Linked DNA regions of Homo sapiens: all the other regions are linked to region 1. The links come from fine-mapping of genetic effects on gene expression. A gene starts in region 1. Each other region holds a variant in brackets. All regions are shown on one strand. Distances are between the middles of the regions. Region 1 holds the start of DAAM2 (dishevelled associated activator of morphogenesis 2). Region 2 holds the start of LOC124901487 (a long non-coding RNA gene). Region 3 overlaps KIF6 (kinesin family member 6). Region 4 overlaps DAAM2 (dishevelled associated activator of morphogenesis 2).

What was found. PIP is the estimated chance that this variant, and not a neighbour inherited with it, causes the effect.
Region 2: its variant is fine-mapped to the expression of DAAM2 in whole blood (TOPMed, PIP above 0.99).
Region 3: its variant is fine-mapped to the expression of DAAM2 in whole blood (TOPMed, PIP above 0.99).
Region 4: its variant is fine-mapped to the expression of DAAM2 in whole blood (TOPMed, PIP above 0.99).

What each region holds. Positions count from the first base shown.
Region 1 is chr6:39,789,472-39,796,950 of GRCh38, reverse strand. It overlaps DAAM2 (dishevelled associated activator of morphogenesis 2), which reads right to left and starts at 4,575. Exons shown (of 25, transcript NM_001201427.2): 1 at 4,486-4,575.
Region 2 is chr6:39,816,045-39,823,523 of GRCh38, reverse strand. The region is part of intron 1 of DAAM2 (dishevelled associated activator of morphogenesis 2); the gene reads right to left. LOC124901487 (a long non-coding RNA gene) reads left to right here and starts at 3,713. Exons shown (of 2, transcript XR_007059917.1): 1 at 3,713-3,827. The variant G/A (reference allele first, on the strand shown) is at 3,541.
Region 3 is chr6:39,704,145-39,711,623 of GRCh38, reverse strand. All of the region lies in intron 3 of KIF6 (kinesin family member 6), which reads left to right. Among named protein-coding and RNA genes, the nearest start is that of KIF6, 18 kb to the left of the region's middle. The variant C/T (reference allele first, on the strand shown) is at 4,503.
Region 4 is chr6:39,824,636-39,832,114 of GRCh38, reverse strand. The region is part of intron 1 of DAAM2 (dishevelled associated activator of morphogenesis 2); the gene reads right to left. Among named protein-coding and RNA genes, the nearest start is that of DAAM2, 36 kb to the right of the region's middle. RefSeq lists an enhancer at 7,395-7,479. The variant T/C (reference allele first, on the strand shown) is at 4,341.

The DNA.
Region 1 (7,479 bases):
GAACTGGAGAGGGGAATGGCATTAACATTTTACTGAGCAGTTTGCTAGCTTCTTCCCTTATATCATTCCATTTCATTTTCAGAACAACCCTGGGGAATGAGAATAGTTATTGTTCTCATTTAACAGATAAAGAAGACTCAGAGAGGTTAGCAAGCTTGTGACCTGGTGGTGCCAGAACTCAAATCTCTGTCTGCTTGATTCTAAAGCTCTTCCTTGGAACCATAGGATGTACCACAAATAATTCAGCTCCTCTTTGGCCAGGATTGAAAGAGACATCAAACTGCCTAAAGTTCATTTTTTTTTTACAGGTTTTTTTTTTTTTTTTTTTTTTGGAGGGGGACCCCAGAAAGAAACCCATAACACCTATTAATAACCATAGTCTGATAAGTCTTGGCCAGTGCTAGCATAACGCTGCACAGGTTCCAAGAACAGGCACTTACTTCCTCCCCCCACAGCATCTTGACTGTGCAGTTTTAGAACCTCATAATGAAACAAAAAACAAACCAAAAAATGTGGAGAGAGTTGGAGAAATAGATGCTGCCAAGAGTGAGGAATTCACTGACCCCCGCTCTGGGCCATCTCAAGAGAAGTTGACCACTGGTTGAGCCTCTTAAAAGCTTAAAAGTCATCCCAGGCCATGGTTAAAGAGAGAGCTTGAACAAAACAAAAACAAATGTGATCTTCAAAATCTTAAATGTCAACTTGAAGGATAACTTACAAGCTTTGAGATGGGCCAAGAGGACCTGCAGCTGCTCTCTAACATCAGATGTTCCTTTGTTCCTTTGGAGTAGTCACTCCCTTGGATAATGTATCAATCAGGGTTCAGGGGGCAGCCTCCCACCCCATACCCACTGGAGATGTTTGCAATGACTAAAGCTTTCATTCTTTACAACCCATCAGATTCCCCCATTACTCTGACCTGAGCACCCTTGACAAGGAGTGGCTGCCTACCCGCTCTCTGACTCAGGCTTGTCCTTCAAGATCCAATTGGTCCTTGACCCTCCTGCCCTACCCCCACCTCCCTACCTTTCCCCTCCCCACCATACTTATACAACCTGCTCTTCTGTCCTTCTCCCTCCCTAAAGAGCACAAACACAAGAGTGATTTCTAGGCCAGACATCCAGGATCCCTGGTTTCTTCTCCCACACTTCAGGATAATGGACCAGGGATGCTCATGGAATATCTTCATTGGTCACCTTTTCTAGAGGAAGGAAGTAAGGATGATCAGAGCCCTAGAAACTCCACCCACTAGCCTTCAATCATGGAAAATATGTAGCTAGATTTGGGGAGAGGTTCTTTCCAAGCAATACTGGCTTGTGATGGCTGAAAAACTGAAAAATAAAAATACAGCACTCCCTTTATGAAGGGTCTTATAACATTCTGAGCTCTGTTCTTAGTTCTTGTGCATAAATGTTTTCATAATGACCTGGGGAGGGAAATACTATCCTTATTTTACAGATGAGGAAGCTGAAGCTCAGAAGGAATAAGTCATGTAGCCCAGGTTACTAATTCGTATTTAGGTCACAGTTCTCTCTCTCCAGGCAGCTGATCAGAAATCTGCACTCTTTCCATTGTTGTCGGGCTGCCTCTGAAGTCTAGGGCTGAATGACACAGGATCCTTGACAGAGTCTCTGGCTGTTGAGATCTAGAGGGTCATCCGCTATCAAAGCCAAGGATATCCTTCAACTTGTTCTTTCTGCCAGCTGTGTTTGCCCTCTGGACCTTCAAGGATGTCTTGGAATGCATCCCATCTACTTAATCTAATCTCAAAGATGACCAAAGAGCTGGCCAGAAGATTGAACTGATAGAATGAGCCATGAGAAGGCTTCAATGTCAGCCTAGGCATCCATGGCCTGGGAATTCATCCCGGCCATAGTGAAATGTCTCCTAGTACAAGCCCAGAAGCATCAGGACTCCACTGATCCCACATGCAGCACTCCCAGAAACCCCACATGTAGAAAGAGTTGAAAACCCAGTTCTTGCCCCTCACCTGTCCCTGAGGAGTTGTATGCTGGGATAAGAGTATTTCTGGGAATCCTGTTCCGAGGGGTCCCTTCTGTCCCTGGGTAGTCTTCTATGTTTAAATAATGGAAATGAATGAGAACATTTAAACTTGTTACTTCCATTGGCTCTAGTAAAATCAAATAAGAAAGCCTCATCTTTCATTATCTCTATGCTTTCTCTACTGCCTGTACTTACCCTTTATCTTCATTCTTTACACCTGGATCCAAGGCTCTTTAGTAATGGGGAGTTTAATCTGTTTTGCATCAAAAACTTTGGAGACAGTCGGGAAAGAAGACTGGGGAGAGAACATGTTCTCACAGCAAGCAGTAGTATTTCAACTTCCTCCACGCTCACCAAAAACAAAATCATTTACAGGCCTTCCTATTGGTCTTGCCTGCACAGCCTCCGCCTTCTTGAGCCCCTGACTCTCTAAGTTCTAATGCCCAGGAGAATGTTCTCTCCTCTTTTTGTCCTGATGGGGGCACGAGTATTCCCTCAGCATCCGAGGCGCTGGAGGAAAAGCTCTGAAAACTCAGCTGGGAGTTAGGAGCCAGAGTTTGCAACTACCAGGGAGCAAGACAATAATAGCACAGTTGTTTGCATAAAGGAAGAAATGGGGGTTAGATGGAGTTCCCAGCACAGATGAAGAAATAGACCATTTATCCTCCCATGTCTAAGGCCATGGCCATCACCACACAGTCATGTATGTGTAAAAACACATAGGCATGTGCATCTCATGGGGACCAGTCACTCCTGTTTACATGCACCCTTGTTTACATTGCCTATGGGATGATTTCCTCCTCCTTCATTACACTTCAGTTGACAACGTACTCCTGAAGTTAAATGAGTCTGTTTCTGACATTGCTGCCTGCTCCATCTTTTATGGAGCTTCCCTGGGGTTCAATTTATATAATTTCTAAAATCCTTCCTGAATCTTAACTTCCTGTGGGTCTGTTTTTACATCCAGATTTCCTCCCTGTCCCTTCATTTTCTCATTTTTCTAGGACAGAGGGAGAGTCCAGTAATCTTCCTCCCACCCAGACATTGTAGGTTGGCTCTACTGCAAAATACAAAACCAGAGACCTGGCTAGCTCAAAGCTGAAAATTCAGTCTGTCTGTGGTCACTCGTTTGTGGAACCCAGCTATTGACAGGCAGTGCCTGGCACTGTGCTACTCAGGGATGATGGATCGATACAGCCTCACTGCTGCTTTTTTCCCCTACTCTCCGTGGAGCACACTTTCCGCCCTAGGCCCTAGGGAAAATCCATCCCCCGCTTCAGCTGGCTTTGCAAAGAAACTCAGGAAACTAACACCAAACTCAGAAGGGGGAAAACACAAGACTTTGAACTTTTTAAAGATGGGAAGCTGCTTTCATTCCCACGTGGGCATCAAGGGAAAACCTATGGGGACTCTTTTCCGGAGAGGTGTGATTTTCCTCTAACCCTCCGAGAAACGTTCCAAATCCACTCCAAAACTGTGGAGAAGTGGCCGAGGCAGAGAGAGAAGAGTTAAATCAAGCCCAGATCTCAGCAATCTGTGTTCAATTTTGATAAAAATCTCCCTCTCCCCCACCGCCCCCCTTCCTCCACCCCACAGCTCAGACACGTCTCTTTATGTTAGGAGCTTGCATCTTGTTTGGGGCACCACACGCGGCACTCCTGGAGAACCTGGCACGTACCTCACCGTGGCCATGTGGCAGAACCAACCATCCCACTCCCAAGCTACGGCTGGACACAGGGCCACAGCGTCCTGGCCATCACCACCACCTCCCCCTCTTCCTTCTCATCCTCTTCACAAAATTACCTGCCGCCAGACCAAGTCCCTCATTCCCCGGTTAAGTCAGAGTCCCGACGCCTGGTAAAGTCAGGGCATGAGGTTGGTTTGCGACCGCAGGTGCTGAGAGCCCCAGAGTCCGGGGACCCCTTTCCTGAGATGCTCCTTCCCCCGCCCAGGGTCCCACTGCCACTGAGAACAAGAACCTTACGGCTGCCCTGCCCACTGGCCAGAGGCCAGGCCTGCAAGTGGGAGCTGGGGGCTTGTGAAGACTTCAGCCCAGCCAAGTGAAGGTTCAAGCCGAACCCGGAAAAGCCACCACCAAAAAGTTGTCAGTTTTGCGGGGTATCTTCTGTGTTTGTCCACTTGTGACAACCAGGGGTCAGGTTTCAAAGCCGCAAAAAACATTTTTAAAAAGTTTTCCAAAGACATTTCCTATGTCCAGATGTGCCAGTACAGACACACGCAATCACACTCATACACACACACAACTCACACACACACAGGCCCTGGGAGCCCACTCCGGGGTCGGCGGCTCCTGCAAACACTTTGGAGAAACAAAACCGCCAGCCTGCGGAGCTGCTGCCTCCCCAAGCCCCGCGGGGCATGCTAAAGAAAGCAGAGGGAGAGAAGTGTGGGAGCCCAGCGGAGAGGGCTCCCCGCGGCCCGGGCCCCAAGACGGGGAGCGCCAGGGCCGGCCGCACTTACTCCGAGGACCCCAGGGCGCCCGCGCTCCCGCAGCCCGAGGTACGGCGCCGCCGCCCGCGCTCCGCTCGCTGCTGCGTGCTCCGCGCTATCCCCGGGAAGCCGCGGCTGCCGCCCCTCCAGGCCCGGCCTCGCGCCCGTCCGCCCGCCCCGCTCTGACGTCAGGCGTCTTGGAGCGGGATATTTATGGCAAGGTTACTCTGAATTTTCCCTAGGTAGACTTCTGATTGCAGTTTCTTGGGATTTGTAATTTTCACACTTTCAGACCGAACGCAGGCGGGGGGAGAGCGCCACCGGCAGGGCGAGGCGTACAATGAGGGTAGCTGTTCCCCACTTTGGCAGGGAGCGTTCTCAGGGCCCCTTCTGTTTTGGAAACATGGAAGGGTCAAAGAGGCAAAAGTGGCCACCTGGGCAGCGGGTTTCTCCCCGGCTCCTCCTCTGGGCTACGGGCAAATGGCCTGGTCTGAGGCCGGCTCGGAGGTGAAGGTCCCGGTGCCAAGGAATCCCCTGTCCCTCCCCAAAGTGTCCCTGCACTGGACAGTGTGTCCCAAGGGGTGCTGGGCAAGACAGGAGCGAAATCAGGCACAACAGAACAGCTAATTAGGAGTCCTGGTCCACGCCCTAACAACTTTTCCATTTCTTTTTTGGGAGTGTATATATATTTTTTTAAGTTTATTTTTATTAAATTATGTTCCACACTCCCTGCCTCTGTATAGCTTTTCCAATTCAGTGCCAGTCAATTCATCTTACTTCATTGCTTGTATGCATAGTTTGAGCAGTTTACAATAGCTCTTATTCATACTTTTAAAATTTCCTTTTAGTTTTTTTTTTTCTTTTTTTTTTAAATGTGATTGTGGTCTGTCTCCTTGACTGAACTAGAGATTGCTTTGGTCAAGAGCAATTGTCCTCTCTGGGATTGGCAACACCCTCACGGGGAGTATTTGATCTTCTCTGTTTCCTATTTTCCCCAGCTCCCTCTGCAAGCAAATGGTGCCCCCACTGGGTGATGACCTGTATACAGTTTTCTGGGTGTTCAGTGGTTGTTCTGTGTTAGTGGTTGTCTGTTTCTCCACCTCACCAAAGGGGCTTAGGGAAATGGCTTGGTTTAAGGGCCACCCTTCCAGAGAAAAAAAGAGAATGTAATGCATGATCTTCCAGAGGAAAAAAAAAAAAAAAAGAGAATGTAATGTGTTATCCTTCATGGTTCCCAAGGATTGGAGAATGAAATGAACTTAAAATGATACACGTGAGATGCAAAATACTTATATGGTTAGACAACATAAGTGTTTAGGTATTCATCTCACCATGAATGGGAGGGGGCACGGATAATTGCAAATCATCATTAAAACACAACTATAGTGAACTTTCCATTAGCCCAAACTGGTAGAGGCGGGGTTGTGTTTTAACCACAGTTACAGTGCAGCAGGGACTCAAGGACTTGGAATGTGTTTACCTCTTTGGCAGCAGCTGGTTAGAGCTGATTGCCAGAAGGAGCTGTCTTAGGGCTGGGCCTCTCGGTAGAGGCCACGCTGTTTTGACCCAAGCCACCGAGGGCCCTGCAGCAGGGAGCTGCTGTTTGGTCACTGTGGGATTGCTCTCCCTGGCATAATACCCCACTTTTACCTCCTTCCATTCCCTCTCTCATATCAAGGCTCCACTGGCAAGGTGAGCTCTGTTCTTCAGCAGACCCTGCAAATAGGTTTCCAGAAGCCATTGACAAACCCATTCTCCCTTGCCTTTCTCAACTAAAGAAGTTAGAAATCTACAATATTCACCATCCCAGACTCCCTGGTAGCTCACAATTGCTATGAGACCAAGTTCTGACCAGTGAGATTGTAATACAGAAGACAGAGGATGCCTTCCACAAACTCTCTTTAAGAGAAGATCAGATTTGGCCAGGCGCGGTGGCTCACGCCTGTATTCCCAGCACTTTGGGAGACCGAGGCGGGCGGACCACGAGGTCAGGAGATCGAGACCATCCTGGCTAACACGGTTAAACCCCGTCTCCACTAAAAAATACAAAAAATTAGCCAGGCGTGGTGGTGGGCGCCTGTAGTCCCAGCTACTTCGGAGGCTGAGGCAGGAGAATGGCGTGAACCTAGGAGGCGGAGCTTGCAGTGAGCCGAGATTGCGCCACTGCACTCCAGCCTGGGCGACAGAGCGAGACTCCGTCTCAAAAAAATAAATAAATAAATAAATAAATAAATAAATAAATAAATAAATAAAAACACAAAAAAAGATAGGGCCAGAGACTCAGAGGTGGCAGGTTGGGGACATCATGAGGACAGAAACAGGGGAAGTGAGGCTGAGGAGCAAGCATTCTAGGTCTGGGAGAGGGGAGTCTCTCCATCCTTGCCCAAGTGTTTTGGAGGCAGGGTCTCTCTCTGTCACCTAGGCTGGAGTGCAGTGGCACGATGATAGCTCACTACAGCTTCGAACTCCTGGGCTCAAGGGATTTTCCCACCTCAGCCTTCCCAGTAGCTGGGACTACAGGTGCATGCCACTAGGCCCTGCTAACCTTTTTTTTTTTTTTTTTTTTTTTTTTTTTTGTAGCGATGTGGTCTTGCTATGTTTCCCAAGCTAATCTCAAATTCCTGGTCTCAAGCAATTCTCTCAACTCGAGAGGCCGAAGCGCTGGGATTACAGGTGTGAGCCATTGCGCCTGGCCCCCAAGCATTCTTAATTGGGTTCTATTGGGATGAGGAGCAAGTGAAATTCATAAAATACGTGGCTGTCAGTGCTGAGGAGCTGTTTTTGAGGTTGGCAAGCCCTGAAGAGTCCATGAAGTAGTAGGGCCCACTCGAAGATCATCTGATTCACTCCCTACCCCCAGCCCTATCACTCACAGGGTCCTAATGTGGGAGTCTCTCCTATTCTCAAGATTCCCAAGAAAGGGGTTTCATCCTTCTTCACCTGCATATTCTAGGAATGTTCCCGGAACATACAGTGAGGCCCTCTGTAGCACACTACTCATCTGGAAAATTGTACCTGCTTGAT
Region 2 (7,479 bases), 27 kb before region 1:
GAAAGGAGCAAGTTTGCTTGAGGTCAGAGATGCTATGTCAGAGCAGAGCACACCAATCTGAACTCAAGAGTCTTCGTTTTTCCTGACTTGCCTGTTCCTCTCTGAGTCTCTGGCCTAGGTCCATCCTGAGCTTGGAGACCAGCAGGTTGGAAGATTCAGAACCCCCAAGCTGCTTTGCCCCAACCTGAACTCCTCAGTTTTCTTCACCCCCCAGGAGAGGAGGATGTTGAACCATTTCCTCTTGGGACACCCATACTGCACATCTCCCTTCCTGCAGTAGAATCTGTCGATGTAGCCTTTCTTAATCTTTGGGCCTTTGAAGCACACAGTGTAGAGCCCAGTTTGAGAAACAAAGCATTGAAAGTTAAAAACTATCATTTTAGGAAACCACTCGGTGCCAACTTGCACAGAAACACAAACCTGGGGACTAAAATCGCATGCCAATAGTAGGTTATATGGTGGTCATTCAGATGATTCAGAATAAATGCCTCCAATTTTTACAGTATTATTATTAAAATGAAAACAAAGAAACATTTCTCAAGGAAAAGCACATTCTCAAGCAGAGTCTCAGACCTTGGAGAAAACAATCACACAATGTTCCCAGGGGTCTCTGGGGCCCAGTGTGAAGGGCTCTGGCTGGGGGTGAGGACCCAGGCTATGGAGTTAGGCTGCCCTGGACCCTTCCCTGTCCCAGCTGTGTCCTGAGTGCCCTCTACAATGGCTGTCACACAGTAGGCCAGCAATTCAACTTTGTTGAACACACAAATGAATAAATGGTTAGACGACTTAAGAGGTTCATCCTGGCTTTGCCATTTACCAGCCCTGCATCTTTAAGGAAAGGTCCTTAATCTCTGAGCCTTAGTTTCTTAATCTTTGAAATCTACAAAATTAGTCACAAGTCAATAAACTACTGCAAGAATTAAAGGAGATGCAAAGCCTTTAGCAGAGTGATTGGTGCATTCAAGGTACAGAATAAATGGTAACTATTATTGTTACTTTTCAAAAATGGCTTTAATCTCACATCCAAAATATCTTTCCAGCTCTGCACACCTTCCCAATTCCACCATGCCATATTATATTTTGGTAAATCCCCAGCACAAAGCCTGGCACAAGTAGGAACACAGAAAACATCTGTTGAAGCATAATTTAGCAGAAAGTGTCTCTGATTTGGAAACCCTCGGGTGAGTGCCAGGGGCTGAGGCTTCTAGCATTTCCTGCTTCCTCCATGGGAGGCCACCTCTTTGTAACAGACCCCAGCCCTCCAAACTGTACCTGAGCATTCAAGGCCAGGAAGCTCACCTGTGTCCATGCCACAGGAAATGGGACGGGGGCATTTGCTCTGCAGAGGGTGGGGATGCTGGCTGAGCCCATCCCCCTGCTGCATAGACTTCTCCTCCCATTCCTTCTCACTCCAGCTCTGGGGAGCGTGGGCCTCCCCCCAGGCAGCGTTCCCAGGCTTCAGCAGTAACAGGCCCTCCATTCTTCCCTGCCCTTGGCAGACCTGCCTCCTCCCACTACGACACTGTCCGCTGCTGCTCATGGGCAGCTGCCTCAATCCAAGGAGACAACGCAGATTTCTTGGGGCCCAGGCCTGGTCTGTCCCCTGACCCTATAGGAAGAAGAGGAATTGGTCCAAGTCTCCTCCTGAGATACACTCACAGGGTCACTCATTTCACCCTCAGGCTGCAAATGTCACTGGTCTCTGGCATCTTCACAAACAGCACTCACTGACCACACTTTGTTTTTCCCAAATGAGGGAGAAATCTGACATCTGCCCCTCCCGGATCTTCACTCCTTGGGCCAGGCTCCAGCTATGTTCAGATGTCAACCCCCAGCTCCCTGCCTCAAGGTTGACAACCACCAGGATAAGGTGGGGGGCTATCCCCAAGTTCAAGACTCGCTACCCACTGGGGATCCCAGTCCCCACCTCTGTCTCCTCCTTCTCACATTTGCCCATCAGATACCACTGGCAAGAGTCACCAGAACTCAACCCAAAATCTGCAATCCACAATCCAAGGAAGAGGATGTAACGCGGCTTTCTTTCACTTACCAAGTTTATCCAGCTATTTTCCAACTTTCTTTTTAGGAATCCTGAGCTCAGTCCTCAAGAATTATCTTCTGATGTCCCAGAGCTGGGTGCTGGGAGCCCAGGGCCACAGCAGGGGGCTGCAGACAGGGAGTCCTTCTGTGGGCATGGATTCCTGGGGTGGGGTGTGCTTGATTTGAAGCAGTGCCCCCTCCTCTGGAGGCTTCAGTACTAAAATCCAGCCCAGGAGTGTCCCAACCACAGCCCAGCAAGGTATCTAGCAAGGGAGGCAGGGCCACTGTCAGGAGCAGAATGTGTGGCTCTCTTTCTTAAAGGGACAGCCTGCCCCAAGAGCCCGAGGTGGGTGGAAATGCTAGAAAGGAAGGAGCAAGGGAGGATAAGCTAGCATCCTCCAGGGAAAAACTCTGAACACACACCAGTCTGTGACTCGGCACTAGCCTCATCCTGTGGTATGACAAGCTTCTCCACTTTCCTGATGTAGAACATGGAGGCAGAAAGACCCTTCCCCAAGGGAACTCACCTACTTTCCTCTAGGGCTGAACTCACCCAGAGGGTGTTGCAATAACCCATAAGAAATATTAATTATTTGCTATGTACACAGCACTTTCCTAAGTGCTTTGCATGAAGAAAATGATTTAGTCCCAATAGGAACTTTAGGAGGTAGGTATTGTGATTATTATTCCCATTTTACAGATGAGGAAACTGAGGCCTGGAGATAGTAAATTGCCAAGGTCTTACAGGTAATATGTGAAAAAATTAGGATTTGAACAAAACTGATTCTACTGGAGCTCAACCACTCATCTTCTACCAACCTTGTCCAGAGGGTAAATTTCTTTTTTCATCTTTATAGTTTTTAGTATTTTCCACATTCTAAAATAGGCATTATTCTGTATACAGAGAAAAAAAAATAAAGATCCCACCTTCTATCTCTCACTCCAATATTTCAATCAAGACGAGACTAGAGCGAGAAGATAAATGTATTCTACGTGGAAGCTCTAAGAGGAAGGAGAGTAGCAAAATTAACAGGACAGTGCAGCAAGGCTATGATTAAATCTATTTGAGTTAAGTTTTGCCTATTATAGATCCACAGGCAGGTTTTAAATAAAATTAAAATAATAGCTTCTTCTTTCAGCCAAAAACTGAAATAAAAAGTTTTTTAAAACCTGGTAACTGAAAAATTCAGCGAAGTCCAGGCTCCTCATAGATTATCCAAGACCTTTCCTAATTTGATCACCAGCTCCCTCCGCAGCTTCCCCCACATGGTCCCACCCACCCCACCCAGCCACCAGGCCAGATTACCAGAGGTTTCCATAAGCCTCTCCAGCACGCTGCCACTCACTCAGGCTAGGATGCCCATTCCCTCCACCTGTGCAGTCTTTGCCATCTTTCCAGACCAGGTTAAACTGTCAGTGCTGCTATGGAGGCTTCCACCCCCACGAGCAGAGTGTTGAACATTAAAAACTCCTTCCTCTGTGCTCTCACAAGCTTTGCCC[G/A]TTGCTATGGACTGAATGTGTGTGTCCTCTCAAAATTCATAGGTTGAGGCAGAATTCCCTATCTGATGCTATGTGTAGGCGGGGCCTTCGGGATATGATTAGGTCATGAGGGTGGAGCTCCCCTGAACGGGATTCATGCCCTTATAAAAGAGACCCCAGAGAGCTGTCTCATCCCATCTGCCATGTGAGGACACAGTGAGAAGGCTGAACCACCAGACGTCAAATCTGCCAGTGCCTGGATCTTGACTTTCCGGCCTCCAGAACTGTGAGAAATAAGCGTTTGCTGTGTAAGTCACCCAATCTATGGTATTTTGTTAGAGCAGCTTGAACTAAGACATCATCCAAAGTCTATTGTTAGAGGTAGCATCACATTGTATGCTAATTAACTGAGCATCTTTTTTTCACTTTTCTGTCCCTAGCACCTAGCACTAAAATCTTGTGGAGTCAGGCAGCTCATGATAGTAATTCTTATTGTTTGAGAGTGTGTTTGAGAGTGTGTCATAAGTGTTTAGTTTTGTGGGCACTTCCTCATGAGTTACCTCATTTGAACTTCACAACAATGAATAGGCATTAGATGTGTCAAATGTTAGTACTGGAGGAGGTAAGTAGCATTTGAGGTCCTTGTGACTCTGCCCTTTGAAGACTAGGTTTGCCCAGATGGACCTGAAGGACTGGCCAGGCTCCCCAAGCCCATTTTCAGCTGGGCCAGACTCTACACCGTCCCTGCCTTCCACAGGCCTCCCTGTGCTCCAACCTAACATCCTCTTGTCCTCAGCTTCCCTCCAGCCAAACAGAAAGCCAGTGGGCATAGAGATGATGGTGATGCTCACCAGCTGGGGTGTAGCCTGCATTCTCTGTGAGTTAGTGCATGCAAAATGGCCAAAGCACTGATGAGAGGCCACATGCCACATTTTCAAATAAGAACCCAGAACAATTCTGCCAGTTTTGTGGAGGAAAACCCTGTTATACATCCCTGAGGCTGTACCCCCTGGCACTGGCATCACTGAAAAAGGGTGTGGAACAAAGGCACACAGAATGTCAGAGCCAGAAGGAACCTTAGAAATCACATTGCTCAACCCCACTCTAGACAAGGAAATGAGGGCCCACACTCAGGAGAGGCTTGTCAGAAACAGTGACTCAGTAGCAAAAAACACAGAGCGACAGCTGGCTCCTGAGCCCTTTCAGATGATTCCGATCCAAGCAAGAAAAAGGAACCTAAAGAATTTATACTAAAAGGAGGTCACAAAGGCCAAATTAATTGCAAGGCATACTTCAATTACACAGCACACAAATGGGCTTTAAATGCAACATCACACACAGAAAACATGTTATAAAGAAAACAATACAGAAGAATAACAGGACGATGTTCAGTAACAGTGTTCAAATTTAGTCACCCTGGAGGCCAGGCCATGCTACAACCCATGTTCTTCCATGACCTCTGCTACGAATGAATTGAGCAGGTAGAGCTAAGTCTAACACTATTTCTGCATTGTGTTAGTAGAATGCATTAACGTCAAAATACCACAGATTAATACTTTCTTTCATCCTCAGATAAAATAATTTATAGTTGTTCTAGTTGTTGGTGCTTAGTCAAATATTGTTGGTCCCCACCCCCGATTACACACAGAGGATGGTACTTCCTGGGTCCTTGTGTTGGGTGGAGTCATGTGGCTAACTTTGGCCCATTCGCTGAAAATATGAAGGGTTAATTTTATGTGTCAAGTTGGCCATGGGACCAGGTATTTGGTCAAATACCAGTATAAAGGTTACTGTGAAGTTTTTTTTTTTTTTTTTTTTTTTTAATTGAGATGCAGTTTCACTCTGTCACCCAGGCTGGAGTGCAGTGACGCCACCTCGGCTCGCTGCAGCCTCCACCTCCCAGCTTCAAGCGATTCTCCTGCCTCAGCCTCCCAAATAGCTAGGACTACAGGCGTGTGCTACCATGCCCGACTAATTTTTGTATTTTTAGTAGAGCTGGGAATTCACCATGCTGGCCAGACTCGTCTCAAACTCCTGACCTCAGGTGATCCACCCACCTCGGCCTCCCAAAGTGCTGGGATTACAGGCGTGAGCCACCATGCCCAGCCAGAATTTTTTCTTTTTTTAACATGAGATGAACACTTAAATCAGTAGACTCTGAGTAAAGCAGATTACCCTCCATAATGTGGGTAGGCCTCATTTGATCAGTTGGAGGCCTTCAGAGAAAATGACCGAGGTCCCCCAATGAAGGGAACTCTACCCCTAGACTGCCTTCAGTCTTGAGCTGCAACATCAGCTCTTTCCTGGGTCTCCAGCCTGCTGGCCTACCCTGCAGATTTTTGACTTGTCAGTCCCACAACCATGGGAGCCCATTCCTTAAAACAAATCCAGATATATGTAGAGAGAGATCCTATTGGTTCTGTTTCACTATAGAACACTGATGAACAGAAGCATCATTAGTGGTCTAGAGCTTTTAATTGTGAGGACCAGACTCCCTTTTCCTTTAGAACAGCAACTGCCAACATTGAAGACAGGGCCTGTTCTGCCAGCCTCAGTTCCTGAGGGACTAAAACAAGCAGAGACCCTCTGTTGATCCACTACCGACAGATAACATGAGTAAGAAATACACCTTTGTTGTTTTCAGTCACTGAAATTTGGAGATTGTGTGTTATTACGCATAATCTTTTACTGACTGAAGTGCTCATTGTTTATCTTAGATTTAAGACATTAGGGGGCAAGGAGAGAAACCCAGAAAAGTAATAGAATCATAAAAGGATTTTGATCCTGGCCTCCCAGAAAGACTCCCAGGCACATGGCCCTTCCTCCAGCTGCATAGTTTCCCTGTTGTGTATGTTGGGATCCTGGGAGTCTTAACCCAGAATCCAGCCACAGTTGTGTAAGTGCATCAAAGGTGCGATCTCACTGCTGAAACTTCCCTAGAAAATGTTCAGAGCTCTGCTGAGGAATCTGACCTGGGCCTAGGATGGGAAGCCCTCCAAAGAACAAAAGTTTCCACTACGGCAACAAGAATGTTAAACACGATTTTGAAAAACTTCTCAGCAAAAGAAATGTGATGATGAGTATTTATAAGCCAAAAACCAAAGGCCATTCCCTAGTTCCTGTGAGGTTTCCCGCCACACGGGGAGCGTTAACAGGACTAGAGACGGTACTGGAAACAGACCTGGATGTCCTTGGCTCCACTGCAGATGGGTTAAGTGTGGAGCCTTTGAGAAAAAGCAGTCACAAAGTGTTGATGATTCTCCTTGGAAATCAAGGGTGATCCAGAGGCTGCTGGGACTCCTCCATACCTTTCTTCTCAATGAATAAATCCAGGCCCCTGAACTTAAATACAGAGGTAAAGTGTGGGGTAGAATAAGATATAATGGACTTGAACTATTACAGGAACTATTTAGCTGAGACCAGCAGCTCTCAAAACTGGGGGTGGCTACCCATCACACCCCCTGCCCCCAGAGACATTTGGCAATGTCTGGAGAAGTTTTGTGGTTCTCGTAACTAGTAAATGTTACTGAGATCTACTGAGTAGAGGCTCGGGGTGTTAATAAGCCTCCTATATACAAAAGATAGCCCCCCCACAACCAAGAATTATGTGGCCTAGTATCAAGATTGAGAACCTGTGGCTGTGATCAAATCCCTAGTTATGAGGGTGTGAAGGTTTAGAACAAGAGCAGGAGAACATTTATAGAGCAATATGCCCCATTGCAAAAATAAATACATTGCAGTCAAACTGTGGGACCTCAGATAAGCAGTATCAGCATTACCTGTGAACATGTTAGAAATGCGCAGCCTTGGGCTCTGCCCCAGACTCCTGGATCAAATTCTTTCTCAAGTATTTACTAGAAAAAATACAACGTGTGATTCATATACCTATAGAGAAAAACCAAAACTATCACTAAAGCATCCTGAGAGGTAGCACAGTTCATGTCAGTAGGAAAAATAAAT
Region 3 (7,479 bases), 85 kb after region 1:
TCCCTTCACAGTTAAATGAGCCCAGGAGTTCAAGACCAGCCTGGGCAACATAGTGAGATTTTTGTCTCTGTAAATAATTTTAAAAATCAGCTGGGCATGGTGGTGCATGCCTATAGTTCCAACTACTCAGGAGGTTCGGGTGGGAGGATCACTTAAGCCCAGCAGGTTGAGGCTGCTATACCCAGCCATTTGACTGGGTATAGCACTCTGTGTTAATAGTTCTTTCCTCTCCAAACTGTGAAGATACTGCTTCATTGTCTCTTTGCATACAGGGTTGTTGAAAAGATGTCCATGCCAATCTGATTCTTATTTCTTTTTAGACATACTTTTTTTTTTTTTTTTTTTTACTTTCCAGGTGTTTTTAGGATTTTTTTCTTTTTTTGTTTTTATGAAATTTGATATTAATGAGTCTAGGTAAGGATTTTTTTTTCATGTATTCTTATCTCTCAGTCAGCTATTTCAATCTGAAAACTCAGATTCAAGGGTCATCACATGGACCATTTCTTTGGTAATTAAAAAAAATTCTTTCTTTTTTTTTTAAAGTGATCTCATTTTTATTTATTTATTTATTATTTAATTTTTTAATTTTTAGTTTTTGAGACATAGTCTCACTCTTTTGCCCAGGCTGGAGTGCAGTGGCATGATCACAGCTCACTGCAGCCTTGATCTGCTGGACTTAAACGATCCTCCTGCCTCAAGGCCTCCCGAGTAGTTGAAATTACACATGCATGCTACCACACTCGGCTAATTTTTTGAATTTTTTATAGAGATGGGGTCTCAGACTGGTCTCAAACTCCTGGGCTCAGGCGATCCTCCCACCTCGGCCTCCTAAATAATTTTCTTACCTCTAACATATCTATTCTTTATTTCTGGACCTTGCAGTCCTATCCTTCAAATATTACAACTTCCCATTCATAGTTCTCCTCTCTTTGCCCTGTGGTTCTGAGTTCTGCAAGAATTTGTCAGCACAGACTTCCAGCATGGTAATTTGCTTTTCAGTGGTGAATTCTTCTTTATCCCTCTAAATTTTTTAATTTTTGCTATTATTTTTCATTTCTAGGAAATGAAAAAGTCTATTCTTGCTTGTGAATGTGGTATCCTCCCTTTCCCTCTGAAGATAATGATCTTTTGAAACACTGGGTTTTTTTTTTTTTCTGTCTTCTTTTTCTTTATGTGCATGTTCTTCTGATGAGTTTGGTGCCTCGCTTTCCTGGTGCAGATTTCCCTCAGATACTGGTGATTCTTAGAGGTGGGCTTATCCCTGTCATTTGAGAATGCGTTTGTCTGTTTGAGCATGCTGTTTCTGTTCACTGTGGCCTACCCATGTGTCTATGGGGAAGGGATGGCATGTGCTGAGGGCATGGTGTGTTTATTTGCTAGGCGTGAGGCCCTCTTTCCTCCAGGGTGCTAGGAGTATCTTACTGTCCCTAATCCAAGCTTCTCCTCTGCAGAAACATGTACTGCACCAGTGAATAGACAGTTGGGGGCAGATTCACATTTTCTTCTCATTCATCTCTGTAGGAGAGTGTTGTTAAGCAAATTGACTTATTTAAGAGCCTGGGGAGGGAATCACTTTTTTCATTGACTTTAAATATGCTGTATACAGGATGTTTATATTTTATGCAAATTGTATGACTTTGAAATGGTAAAACATAAAATACTGATAAAATAAAGTGTCATTTATGCACAATATTTAAAGTAATGTATCCCCATACATTGAAAATCAAATTTTTAAGAATTACATAATTTGGCAGGCCTTTGAATAGACACTATACCACTTCAGATATTAAACAGAAATGTCCGCTATTCCTAGTGAAGATTAGCCTTCAAGAACACATTCCCAACATAAAATCTGACCACTTTAAACTAGCCCTTTAAAGTTATTCTACTGGGTTAACACATGGTAACTTAATTCTGGTTACTGTATGCAATTAAGGCTAAATAAAACTAATCACATTTCTGTCCAAAATTCTGTAATTCAGGAATCTCACCAATTTAGACATCTTTTCTACTTCGTCCAAACCAGTGATATTATGTGCATGACTATGTAGCAGGGGTCCCCAAAGCCCCAGGCCATGCACCGGTACCAGTCTGTGGCCTGTTAGGAACTGGGCCACACAGTAGGAGGTGAGTGCTGGTGGAGGGAGCATTACTGCCTGAGCTCCACCTCCTGTCAGATCAGCTGCGGCATTAGATCCTCATAGGAGCACAAACCCTATTGTGAACTGTGCATGCGAGCAATCTAGGTTACACACTCCTTATGAGAATCTAACTAATGCCTGATGATCTGGGGCGGAACAGTTTCATCCCAAAACCATCCCTCCGACAACACACAATTATTTGGTGGAAAAATTGTCTTCCACAAAACCAGTCCCTGGTGCCAAAAATGGCAGGGACCAAAGCTGTATAGGACTGCATGTATGGGGAGAAATAGTAAAGCTTGAACTTTGTATTATTGGAAATAAAGTAAAATAATCTTTGTGGTTATTTATTATTTAGTACATTTCCACTAGGAAGTGCTTCATCATGATGCCTCTTCTAATCTCAGGTGTCTTTGAAATCTATTTGGGTTGATTAGTAACATTGTCAAAACTGCCTTTTGTCATCTGAATTTTGCTCATTAATTTCTGGATGAATTTTTTTATAAAGGTAAGATTTAAGAAGTCTACAAATGTCTATGGTATTGCAGTATACAAAAGAGCGTCTTGTTTTATTTGTTTTTTTTTTTTTATCTAGTGTTGTGCTTCTCAAACTGAAGTGCATCAATCTCTGGAATATGTGGTAGGCTATCAGAGAATACCTGAAGCTTCAAGCAAAAATAGTACATTATCCTTGAGTGCCCATTTCATTCAAAGACTTAGGGAGGAAAACTATGAAGTCTAGACATTTGTGAGGTCTTAGCACACATCTGCAAGTTTGCAGAATTCCAGTTTTCTAATAGAGCCAATCTATGTTTTACCTAAAAGCTTGGGGTGTAGGAAATTTACTTTATGTGCAGTGAGTAATTTTGCAAAAATTTGGAAATTCAATGTTTTGTAAGAGCATGATGGTTTGACCAAAATGAATAGAATGTGCACTGGCAGGAGGACTGGCTATGCTATGACACAGTCCCAGTAGCTGGTGCTGAACAGCTAAGGCACCTACACTACAATAAGGCCAATGAGGTTGGCTTTTGGAAAGCTATTAGTCATTATGAGCCACCACTGGTTAACCTTTGATTTCACCAGTGATGAACATTATCAGGAGCAGCCTTTCAATTTATAGTAAGAAGATTTCTCTTTTCCTTCACTCTCTTCTTACTGTAAAGGGACGCTACCCTCTCAGGTTTGGAGAAGGATGTGCTTGACAACTTTTGCACATGAGCTCTTGCTGGGTGGGAGGCCAAGGCTTGATGCAGGGGATTTTCTCATGGCAGGGGGCAGTACCACACTCTCAGTTGTGCCAAGGTCATTGCCCAGCAGGACTTTTGCCTGTTGCTCTTTAGGAAACAGGCTTTGCTGATAATGCCGTGGGTTGCCTAGCACACCCAGTTCTGCTAATCCAACCAGAGAAGAGATCCTGCTCTTTCAAGACAAGGAGGACAGAATAGGGAGAAAAAGGCTCACAAAAGAGGATTAAAAAAATCTTAGTTATTCACTTCTGTGTACTCATGGTTTTACCTTTTCTGGCTCAAAATATTTGGCATCAAGTCAAATAATCCAATTCTGGCCCTAGCCCTGTGACTAACTCCCTATGTGACTCTGAATCAGACATATCACTTCTGAATCAGTTATCCCTTCTGAGAAAGGGGATGCTAATAACACCAAGTTTACAAGGTTGTTTTAAAGATGAAAAGAAACAATGTGCTTTACAAGCGTCAGTGCCCTATTCAATGTAAGGGATGAAAAAATTAGAAATCTTTAATTTCTTTGCCACTCAAAAAACATGCTTAGTGACCTCTGGTTCCAGACCAAGATAGAGTAGACACACTTCTCTCTATTCCCCTTACTAAGTACAGCTAAAGACTCTGGACGTCATATACAAAGAAACATGACTCTGAAAGTTGAAGAGAAGATAGCCTAGCTAGAGACCTCAGGACCTGAGAAGTGACAGAATGGTGAATCCCCTTGGATTTTTCCCCTCATATATCTGCACAGAGCGGGGACACTTAACCACCCTGCCCAGATTGGATGCTGGAGAAACCAGACACCCAGAAACACCAGTGGGCTCAGACAAAATCCTCAAGAAGAGTCTACTGTCTCTAGCAAGAGGGCCAGGGGACTGGCAGCCTAGCAAGACAGAAAACTTGTAGATACTAGTTGCCTTACTCCGTCCAGATACCATGGAAAAACCCGTGACTCCACCCCTATGTGTTTTAAAGAGAAGGGGGCCCTAAGGGAAGTAAGGTTTCTACACTTCATTCAAACTGGTAAAATGTTAACACCAGTAGATTTCTATAGTGATAGAATAGTTCTGTATTTTGATGGCAGTGGTGATTGCTTAATTCTACACATGTGAGAAAA[C/T]GGCATAGAACTATACACATACATTCTACCAATGTCAATTTCCTGGTTTTGAAAATGTACTACAGTTATGCAATATGTAACCACTGGGGCAAATGGGGTCCAGAGAACTATTCTATACTCTCTTTATGACTTCCTGTAAATTTATCATTATTTCAAAATAAAGCAGTAAGAAAATCCTCAGTTATAAAAATTTTAGTGACATTTGTTCTGTGATATTCTTCTATTCTGTAAATTAGGCAATCTCAGTTATTGCACTGGAACTTCTCCCCCAGGGGATTCAATAAAGCTAATCCCATCTGAAATTCACAAAAACACCAGTGACATTTTGTTTTTTTTCCAAGTTTACAGGAAACGTTATTCACCACTGAATTGTACAAAAACTCATTGCCTGTTCCCTAAATCTGTTCAACTTCTGGCCACAGTTGCACTTTGCCAGATGCGTTGTTTATAAACATGTACCTGCACTTGGCTTTACTTGCTGCTATGCTGAATTTCCTGATGACATCACATTTCTGGCTTTTGTGACTTTACAATTATACTTAAATCTAAACTTTTAAGTGTGACAATTTTAAAATTACATTTTCAACTGAGAACATGGTCTTATGATTAAAAACAGGGACACTAACATATCAGCTTAAAGCCATGTAATTATACAAGATGATGACCTTGACAAGCTCCATCAAGGACTTAACAAGGAAGGGGATAATATTCCCATTCTACCTACAGCTGTTGAATGTGAATAAAACAACAGCAGTTGATGTAACCAGTATAGAATGTATTAAAGATGCACATTTCAAACACAGATTTTATTACTGTAGGTAAAAAGTGAGCCTAAATCTCGGTTTCTCTTCTTAAGAATAATTGATCAAGAAATTGCATACTATCATTTTTGCAATAATAACTACAAGTTATTCATAATTTTTGATAAAATACCTACAGAAAAAAAAGCATAAGAGTTGCATGAAGCTATTTGATTGTAAGAAGTAGGATTCCTTGACAGAATATTGTATATGCAAGGGGTGAAAATTACTGGGTCAGCGGTAAAATAAAAAGCGTTACTTGGATTAAAAAGTTAGTTGGGGGTTTCCTAAGATAATAAAAGAGACGAACCAGTGGATCGGAGATGCACTGATTCTGCAGCATGAAGAGACATCTCTTAAGCTGGTGCCACCAGAAGCAGATCCTGAGGCTAGGATTCCAGGGAAAGTAATTTGTTTGGGAGGTGAGTTCAGGAAGCACCAGGAGTGCAGTAGGGAAGTGAGAAAGCGAAGGAAAGGAAGGTAGGGTCCTTTAAGGAGCAGGTTACCACTGTAAGCAACTGGGACTTATTTCTACTGGTACCCACTGGGGAACTGTTAGGAACATGTCTCAGAGTTGTCCCACCCAAGGGGCAAAGAAGCCAGGGTACTTGACCACTCCTGCCCATTATTGGTTGAAGGCTGCTTCTGGGGTGTTCACATCATGGCACTTTGAGCCTCACCTGTGTGTGAATTAAACTTCATGGAGGCAAGGTCTCCTCTTTACCTTTGTTCACTGTAGTGTTCCTGGCTCCTAGAATAGTGTCAGGTGTCTATTAGATACTCTGAGTATTTGTTGAGGAAGAGAATTGGCAGATAGAGGATGATCCTTTAGCACCTGTCAGCCTTCCCTTTATTGCTTAAATGCACAGTGATGGGCTTTATTTCTTATAAAGTGAGTTTTATTTCTGTTTCCTTCCTGAAGTACTTTTTGGACAGAGATCTTTTCAATGACTAAAATCACGCTATATAGACACCTGCTCTTTTGTCTAGGCCAGTGGTTCTCAAAGTGTGGTCCGTAACCCAGCAGCATCAATGTTACCTGGGCACTTGTTAGAAATGCACATTCTCAGGCCTCACCCAGACCTATTGAATCAGAACTATCTGTAGTTTAACAAGCCCTCCAGGTGATTCTGATGCACACTAAGGTTTGAGATTCACTCACCTAGGCCTACAGCTAGGCTGTGGGGTGATGCAGATAGGGACAGATGATACCAGTGGTATTTGTTGTTAGTATCTTCCTCAGAGATCCAAGATGTGCTCTAAACGACTTTACAATTCCGAAATTGGTATTTGTTTGTTTATAATTTACCTCCCACTTATTTCTAAAATAAATTAAAGCACCTTATCCTAAAGCCAGAACCGGCTTCATATACATGAGACCTATGTCATAACACAGGGCCCCATGCTCAGAAGGGACCCACTCTTGATTTAAAGCACTATAGTTAACATTCACAGGAACGTTACAAGTTAAGAGAAATCTGAAACTATTTAGACTAAGTTAGGTGCTTAACAGATTATTTTCAGAAAGCTGAACATTTTCTCTAAAGATATAATTGGGGGAGACCATATAACACATTGACTAAGAGCAGGGACTTTGGAGCCATATAAGTGCAGTTCAGATCCCAACTTTAATACTTATTAGCTCTATGTCCTTGGGCAAGTTATTTCATCTTTCTCTGTTCTAGCTTTGCTTTTTTTTTTTTAAAGACGGAGTTTCTCTCTGTCACCCAGGCTGGAGTGCGGTGGCACGATCTTGGCTCACTGCAACCTCTGCCACCCAGCTTCAAGCAGTTCTCCTGCCTCAGTCTCCCAAGTAGCTGGGATTACAGGCATGTGCCACCCCACCCTGCTAATTTTGTATTTTTAGTAGAGACAGGGTTTTACCATGTTGGCCAAGCTAGTCTTGAACTCCTGACCTCAGGTGATCCACCTGCTTTGGCCTCCCAAAGTGCTGGGATTACAGGCATGAGCCAACGCGCCTGGCCTGAACCAGCTTTTTATCTTTAAGTGGGGAAAATGATACTGTAATATCTACCTCATTTGCCATGACAATCCAATGAGCTGTACGTGAAAATCACATGCCCCAGTATATGTGATTGCTCAGTAAGTACATAGTGCATGCTCAATGAGTATTAGCTATCATCCATTTTTGGCTCCCCACTGACATTTTTATAGAA
Region 4 (7,479 bases), 35 kb before region 1:
CGTACCTGTCCCCCCAGTACACCTGTTCCCCCAGTGCACCTACTCCCTCAGTACACCTGTCCCCGCAGTGTACCTGCGCCCCCAGTGCACCTGTCCCTCCAGTATACCTGCCTCCCCAGTGCACCTACCCCCCAGTGCACCTACCCCCCCAGTGCACCTACCCTCCAGTGCCCCGGCCCTCGCACTGCATCTGCCCCTTCAGTGCACCTGCCCCCCAGTGCACCTGCCCCCTCAGTACAACTGCCCCCTCGGTACACCTGCCTCCCCAGTGCACCTACCCCCCAGTGCTCTGGTCCCTGCACTGCACCTGCCCCCCCCCAGTGCACCTGCCCCCTCAGTACACCTGCCTCCCCAGTGCTCCTGTCCCCACAGTGCACCTGCCCCCTAGTGCACCTGTCCCTCAGCGTGCCTACCCCCCAGGCCACAGACCTGGACTGTTCAGGTGGGGTCTTACAAGCCTCTTGACCTTCCCACCCATTTACTGTCTTTGTGGCCCTGGCAGAGGCCACACAGAGGTTAAGAGCCAGAACTCAGGAGTTAGACTTCCTGGGTGCAAATCCTAGAGCTGCTTCTTATCTGCTGTGTCATCTTTGGCAAGTTACTTAACCTCCCTGTGCCTCAGTTTCCCCATGTGAAAATGAGAATAATAATAGTAATCTGCCTCAAAGATTGTGGGGATTAATTGTGGGGATTAATTTAGTGAGTCAGGTACAGTGATTAGGGTAGCACCAGGCACCTATTCAGCACTAAGTGTGAATAACTCACACCCTCTCAGTGAGGTCTTTCAAGGGCATCTGAAATAGCAGCCCCGCTCCCAGCACCTCCCATCTCCCTTCCCTTCATTTTCCACGTAGACTTACCACCACCTGACAGACTATACATCCCATGTATTCATTATCCCTCCCACAAGAATGTATATTCCATGGGGCATTTTTGTCTATCATTCATTGCTGTATCCGCAGTGACTAGAATTACTACCTGGTACATAATAGGCCCTTGTAATAAAGAAGGAATATATGAAACTTACTAACTGTGTAGACTTAGGCAAGTTACATAACTCCCCACATGCCTTAGTTTACTCATCTGAGAAATGGAGATGATGCCCACACCCTCACGTTGATGTGAAGATTAAATGAGGCAACATTTGTAAATATGCCCACTCCGGTCCTTGGTACATGGTCGACCTGAGAGGACCAGTTTCTGCCTGATGGAGGAAGGGCCTGAAATGGTTAATCCCTGACTCTCCTCCCCCATGCAAAGCTGGTCCGGACTGCAGGGCCACTGGCAGCTATCCAGGTGGAGGCTAAATGTCAGAGGTGTGTGCCTGCAGAGCTGCCCTGGTCCTGATGCAGTCTTGACCCAGGCAGCTGGAGCCCCTCGCCACCCCCTCCTGCTGCCTGGGCCTGGAGCATTTGGGAGTGCAGGAGCAGAGTGGTGGGAACCTCCGCAGGCCTGGGTCCCACGCCACATCCTGGCCTTGGGGGAGGTGGGCCCAAGGCCTGGACTTGCTTCCCAGCTATTCCCAGGCGGCCCTCTCTCCTGCTGGCCCAGCTGCACTGCCTGAGCCGGAGGGCCACAGGGGTAGGTCTGTCTGTCAGCATCACTTGTCCCCACTCACGATGAAGAAGACGCAGGCCTCAGCACAAGCACAGTCTGGACTCAGAGCCCCACTCTGTCAGCCCTGAAGCCCACCTGCCTCCCTCCCTGGGAGGGAGTGCGTGGAATGACAGTCACAGAGGACTCACCGGACCCCAGCGACTCCAGCCTGTGGCTTCCCAGATTTCTCCAATTTCTCGCAATGCCCCAGCTTTTCAGCAACTTCTCTGAGAGTCATGCCTCTCCATGACGGACCCAGAAAAAGATGAAAATAGATAGACACAGGCTTCAGTGTGAATGCTGAAGATGAAATAAATGCAGTCCAGCATTGCCCCATGGGCATCCACTCCACAACCATCTATGAACCCCCACTCTGGGCCAGACACTGTGCACTGTAGGATGCGGCAGTGAATAAAACACAGACCTGATTGTAAAAATCTCCCAGTCGGAAAGGGGGTACAAATGTGAGCAGGCCGGGGTAGTGGGCAGAAGTATCTTGGTGGAGCTGTACAGGGAATGATGAGAGTATGGATGAAGGGTCTCTAACTCAGCGTGGGGAAGGAGGGAGCATGAGAAATCTAGAAGGGTGGTACCAAGGTGCTTCTGGCCAGCAACAACTTGGGGGAGAACAGAGGAGCTAATAAATGGAGAAATGATATTTCCCACCAAGGGGCCGGCTCAGAACGGCTCTGGGGAGGGTGCCAGCTTCAACTCCCATCCTCCCAATCTTCAAGCACTTTTACCAGAAACTAAGCCCTCTGAGGGCAGGGACCAGGTTCAGTCTGCATCCCTAGAATGAGGACAGGCATATATGGCAGGCACTGAGTAGAAATGTCTGAGTGTGCCAATGAATAAACAAACCCCTGAAGGTAAGATCACTACTGACCCAGGGACATGTTGCTTTTTTGTTATCCCACAGACATTAACATAAATTTCTATTGCCCAATTTCCTCTTGGTAAGTGTAAGAACCCTCACAGGCTATAAACTCTCCAACTGGTGCCAAATGAGGTATCACTCAGCCTCCAACACAAGCCTCTTAAGAGGGAACCAACCATGGGGTTCTGTCCATCACCCTGAGTGCTGCCAGCCTCCCCATCGATGGTCACCACAGTCACACTCCTTTGGTACACCCTGGGAAAAGCCGCAAGAATCACACACCACTGAGGATAATGGCCAGAAAGTCACTGCCAATGTTTGTGGCTCAGTATTTACAGAAAAACAGGATCATTCTGTGCTTGCTACCCACAACCAGTCATAGGCGCATGTGCAGGCCCATCCACACACCCTGTGTGGAACACACAGCCCGCTCCCCAGGCCCCTGCCATCAACAAAAGTATACAAAGAAGAGATGCCAATTGGATTTATCTGTTTAAACAGCATCCCGTGAAGCTGGTCCCTGGGTGAATTATCCAAACAGTAACCATTCTTGCTTCTTTCTTAAAGAAAAACTGTAGAGAGCATAAATTCTCCTTGCATCTCTGCTATTCATTCATGCAGCCAATATTTAATAAGGACCTACTATGCGTTAGCCCCTGCTAGTGGAACTGTGCTATGGTTTGCATGTCTGTGTTCCCTCCAAAATGCATATGTTGAAACTTAATCTTTGTTGCAATAATACTAAGGGTGGGGCCTTTTGGGAAGTGATTAAGTCATGATGGCTCTACCTTCATGAATGGATTAGTGCATTATAAAAAGGCGGGAGGCAGAGGCGGGCAGATCACAAGGTCAGGAGATCAACACCATCCAGGCCAACATGGTGAAACCCCGTCTCTACCAAAAATACAAAAATTAGCCGGGCATGGTGGCACGCACCTGTAGTCCCAGCTACCCGGGAGGCTGAGGAAGGAGAATCACTTGAACCCGGGAGGCAGAGGCTGCAGTGAGCTGAGATCGCACCATTGCACTCCAGCCTGGCGACAGAGCAAGAATCCGTCTCAAAAAAAAAAAGACGGAGGGGGGTGGAGGGAATTAGCTTAGGCCCTTTTAGCCCTTCCATTCCTTCTGTCATGTAAGGACACAGTGTTCTTCCCCTCCAGAGGAAGGAAAGGAACACAGACATGCAAACTATAGCATAGTTCCACTGGCAAGGGCTAATGCATAGTAGGTCCTTATTAAATATTGGCTGCATGAATGAATAGCAAAAATGCAAGGAGTACCTATGCTCTTTACAGTTTTTCATTAAGAAGCAACAAAACACCACCTTAGGAGCAGAGGGCAGCCCTCACCAGACAACAACTCTGCTGGCACCTTGATCTTGCACTTCCCAAAGTCCAGAACCATGAGAAATGTTGTTTTGGTTTATAAATTACCCAGTGTGTGGAATATTGGCACAAATGGACTAAGACATACTAGAAATGCAAAACTGAACCAGTCAGGGCTTTGCATTCTGGAAGCTAATAGTCTAGCGAGAGTCAGACAGAACAGTGGTTTTCAAACATTGTGCTCAGTGCTTCATCAGGGACAGGCCTGTGGGAGCACAGGTGAGAGGGAACCCTACTACCTGAAATTGGTGGGGAGGAGGAGGCGTTAGAGAGACTTTGTAGGTGTGGTGATTTTTGGGCTGAGTCTCCAAGGACAGCGAGGCGTTCCCCAGGTATGAGCCTTCAGGTAGCAGGGAGGGCAGGAGTTAGAAGTGTGAGCGGCAGGGCAGGCAGAGCTTGGGCAGCTGGCAAGATGACCCAAGAAGTACTCCAGGGCTCAGACATGAAGGGACTATACCCCTTGAATTCTGAAACTGGGTTTG[T/C]GATTTTCCAGATTCCCCTTTGGTCCATTAAGAGAGTTCATTCTCAGACCAAGGGGGTCAAGGGGTATCACACTTCACACAAAGACAGAGACCCTGAAGAGTAATCCAGGCATGAGGACCCCAAGGAAAAGAGTCAGGGAGAATCCTCCAGCCACTGTTTCTGAAGCCCAGGCCCCTGCATCCTACCAGGCCCGGGGGCACCTCCATGAGCCCACACACACAGAGCCAAGGCGTGAGTGAGGGCCACCATTCCCTGGGGTGGTGAAGCACCATTCCACAAACCCAGACCCAATAATCAGACTCTGAAAAAGACTACCCCCGCCCCACTTCAGCTCCTGGATAGCTGTGCCTTCCCCTCTTGAGATGTCACACTCCCCACCTGTGTGCAAATGGACTCAACTCCTCCTTTCTCCGACATGATCTGCAGGACGCCCCTCATACAGCTGCTGGCATGCACAAGACGTTGAGAATGAAGGTACTACCATTTAAAGACCGCTTTACAGGCGAGAAACTGAGGCCCAAGAAGCAGGCTACTTGCCTCAGGACCCACAGCAAACTCATGCCACAGCCATGTCTAGAACCCAATTTTCGAATTCACAGCACAGAACTCTTCTCTCCCACTACAGAACAGTCGCAGACAAATTCTGCTTTGCTTCCTGGTTTCTCCTGAGTTTCTACTTAAGTGGAAACAACAACTACAAAAATGCAATATAAAAACAAAAATTAAAAATTCCAAAAATCTTAGCCAAGATTCATTCATGAATATTTCCCCTAAATATTGTGAGCCCTGCTAGGATCCAAGCTACACCGCCTCTCTCTTTAAATATTCTCAAATACTCCAGGAAACTGATTCCCAACTTCTCCTGATTTCCTCACCTCAGATTTTCTCTTTGAAGCTTGAAGGGTACTTAGAAACTTCTCTTTAAAAAGAGAAGGTGCTCCTGACAGTCATTCCAAGACATTTGGATTTGCCAAGTTGAAGTTACAGAAACCTGTGACTATGCATACTAATTATTATTATTTGCCTACCATTAGTATGCTTTTTCACATTTCACATCTGATTTTTTATGTACATTTTTCTTAATTTTTGTGTGCAAACAGTCCTAATATGAAGTGAAAAAAATCACTGGCAAAAGGAGAAAAGCAAACAAACTAGCCTGGTGTCCAGGGATTCAAGAATTTCAGGAGGATCGTGAGGCAAATTGGATATGTTCTCCAGGAAAGGGGAGCTATTGGGCATATCAGCTACACAACCGATCACCTGAGGATTCCACTGGAAATGAAAAAGAGAGAAAGAGAAGGAGTCGAGAGTCCCCCAAAACCCTAAGTGGCTTCTCCCCAGCTTTAGGACACCACAGGGATGCTCACCTTTTAAGAGACTTGCTTTCCTAGAATAGCCCCAGCCCCTCACTTTGGGATTGTGCTGTGAATGACAAAGTACTCATGGCAGGGAGCCCAGAGAGTTCCAGCAGGTAAGGAGAAGACCCTCGAAAGTAAAATAAAAAAAAAATCTGCTACTAACTGGCAGTTATTTGAACTAGTTATACCAGAGACCAGGAGCAGGCCGCACAATCGCTTCTTCCCCAGGGCTCTTCTCCTAAGCTGAGAAGATGCCAGCCGTGTGTTTATCATTTCTCCCCACTATCTTTTAAGGCAGCCACATCCCAAGCCAGCAGGCAGAAGCTGGACCAAGACACATGTCCAATGGGGAAGGAGGCCAGGTTCACTGCACTAGGCATGAAATACGCCTTATCTCATATTTGCCAACACACCTGCACCATGGGGACACATAAAATGTGAACCTCATTCCCATTTCCCATTAGAAATTAAGAGATTCACAAAGCCCAAATAATGTGTGCTGGGCCATTTAGCAATGATAGAGCAGGACTGGGTCTCCCTCCAATTCCATTCTACCCAAGAGGTACAAGGACCACTGCATGTAGTGTGCAGGCTGTGAACTGCAAGAGAATCCCACATCCAAGGAGATACATGAGCCCACCCTGCCTGCAGGGCTTGTACACCTGGGAAAGAGTACACTCAGTACACTCAGTACAGATATCGGGGTGCAGAAAGCCAGTCCCACCTATGCTCCCTTGACTCCCCCCATTCCCACCTGCCCAATCACAGCCACGGTGGGAGCAGGGGAAGGACATATCTTATCCCTGGTACGATGGAGAGGGTGTGTGATCAGGTGACAGGGTGATTCTGTGAGTGAATGCACAGCCAGGCTCAGGAAAGTGCCCCCCAACACACACACACTGGCAGAGCTGGGCTACTTTACAGGAGTATGCTTAACTATGTTTCCTTCAAGAAACAAAGGCCCCCCACCAACCCCCCGACCTTGTGTTTTGTTTTGTTTTGTTTTGTTTTGTTTTGTTTTGTTTTGTTTTAAACAGTCTTGCTCTGTCACCCAGCTGGAGTGCAGTGGCGCAATCTCAGTTCGCTGCAACCTCCACCTCCCGGGTTCAAGCATTATCCTGCCTCAGCCTCCTGAGTAGCTGAAACTACAGGCGCACACCACCATGCCTGGCTAATTTTTGTATTTTTAGTAGAGAGAGCGTTTCCCCATGTCCGCCAGGCTGGTTTCAGACTCCTGACCTCAGGTGATCTTCCTGCCTTGGCCTCCCAAAGTGCTGAGATTACAGGCGTGAGCCACCGCACCCAGCCTGACAAAGACCCTTCTTAAATTCACATCCAGGCCCTGCATGGCTAAGCAGCCTCTCTGATCAGGCTCCTTCTTGGCAGCTGGCAGGTCAGCTACCTGGGCCCCTCTGAAGCCACCCCAGGTCACCTCTCATCATTCTCCTCCAGGAGTTAGACAGTTGGGATAACCTGGCTCTGGAGAGGAAGACTGGCAAGTCCCAAGAAAGTATTTGTGTCTCCCCCTGCTATTCTCATCCAGCTGGCCTTTCCCCATGGCCCTCACCCATGATAAATGCACCCTGGATGGGGAAAGAGGAACAGAAATTCCATGCTCTGGACCTTGCCTGGAGCTGGCTTCCCAACCATGCGACTTCCGCGGAACCTGCTCTTGCCGAGAAGGCACCAGTGGGTCCTCTCCAGCTCAAACATCTGCCTCCCTCAGCTTGTCCTGCCTGCAGGAGCTGGCCAGCTTCTCCTGCATGCTATGCTGATGCAA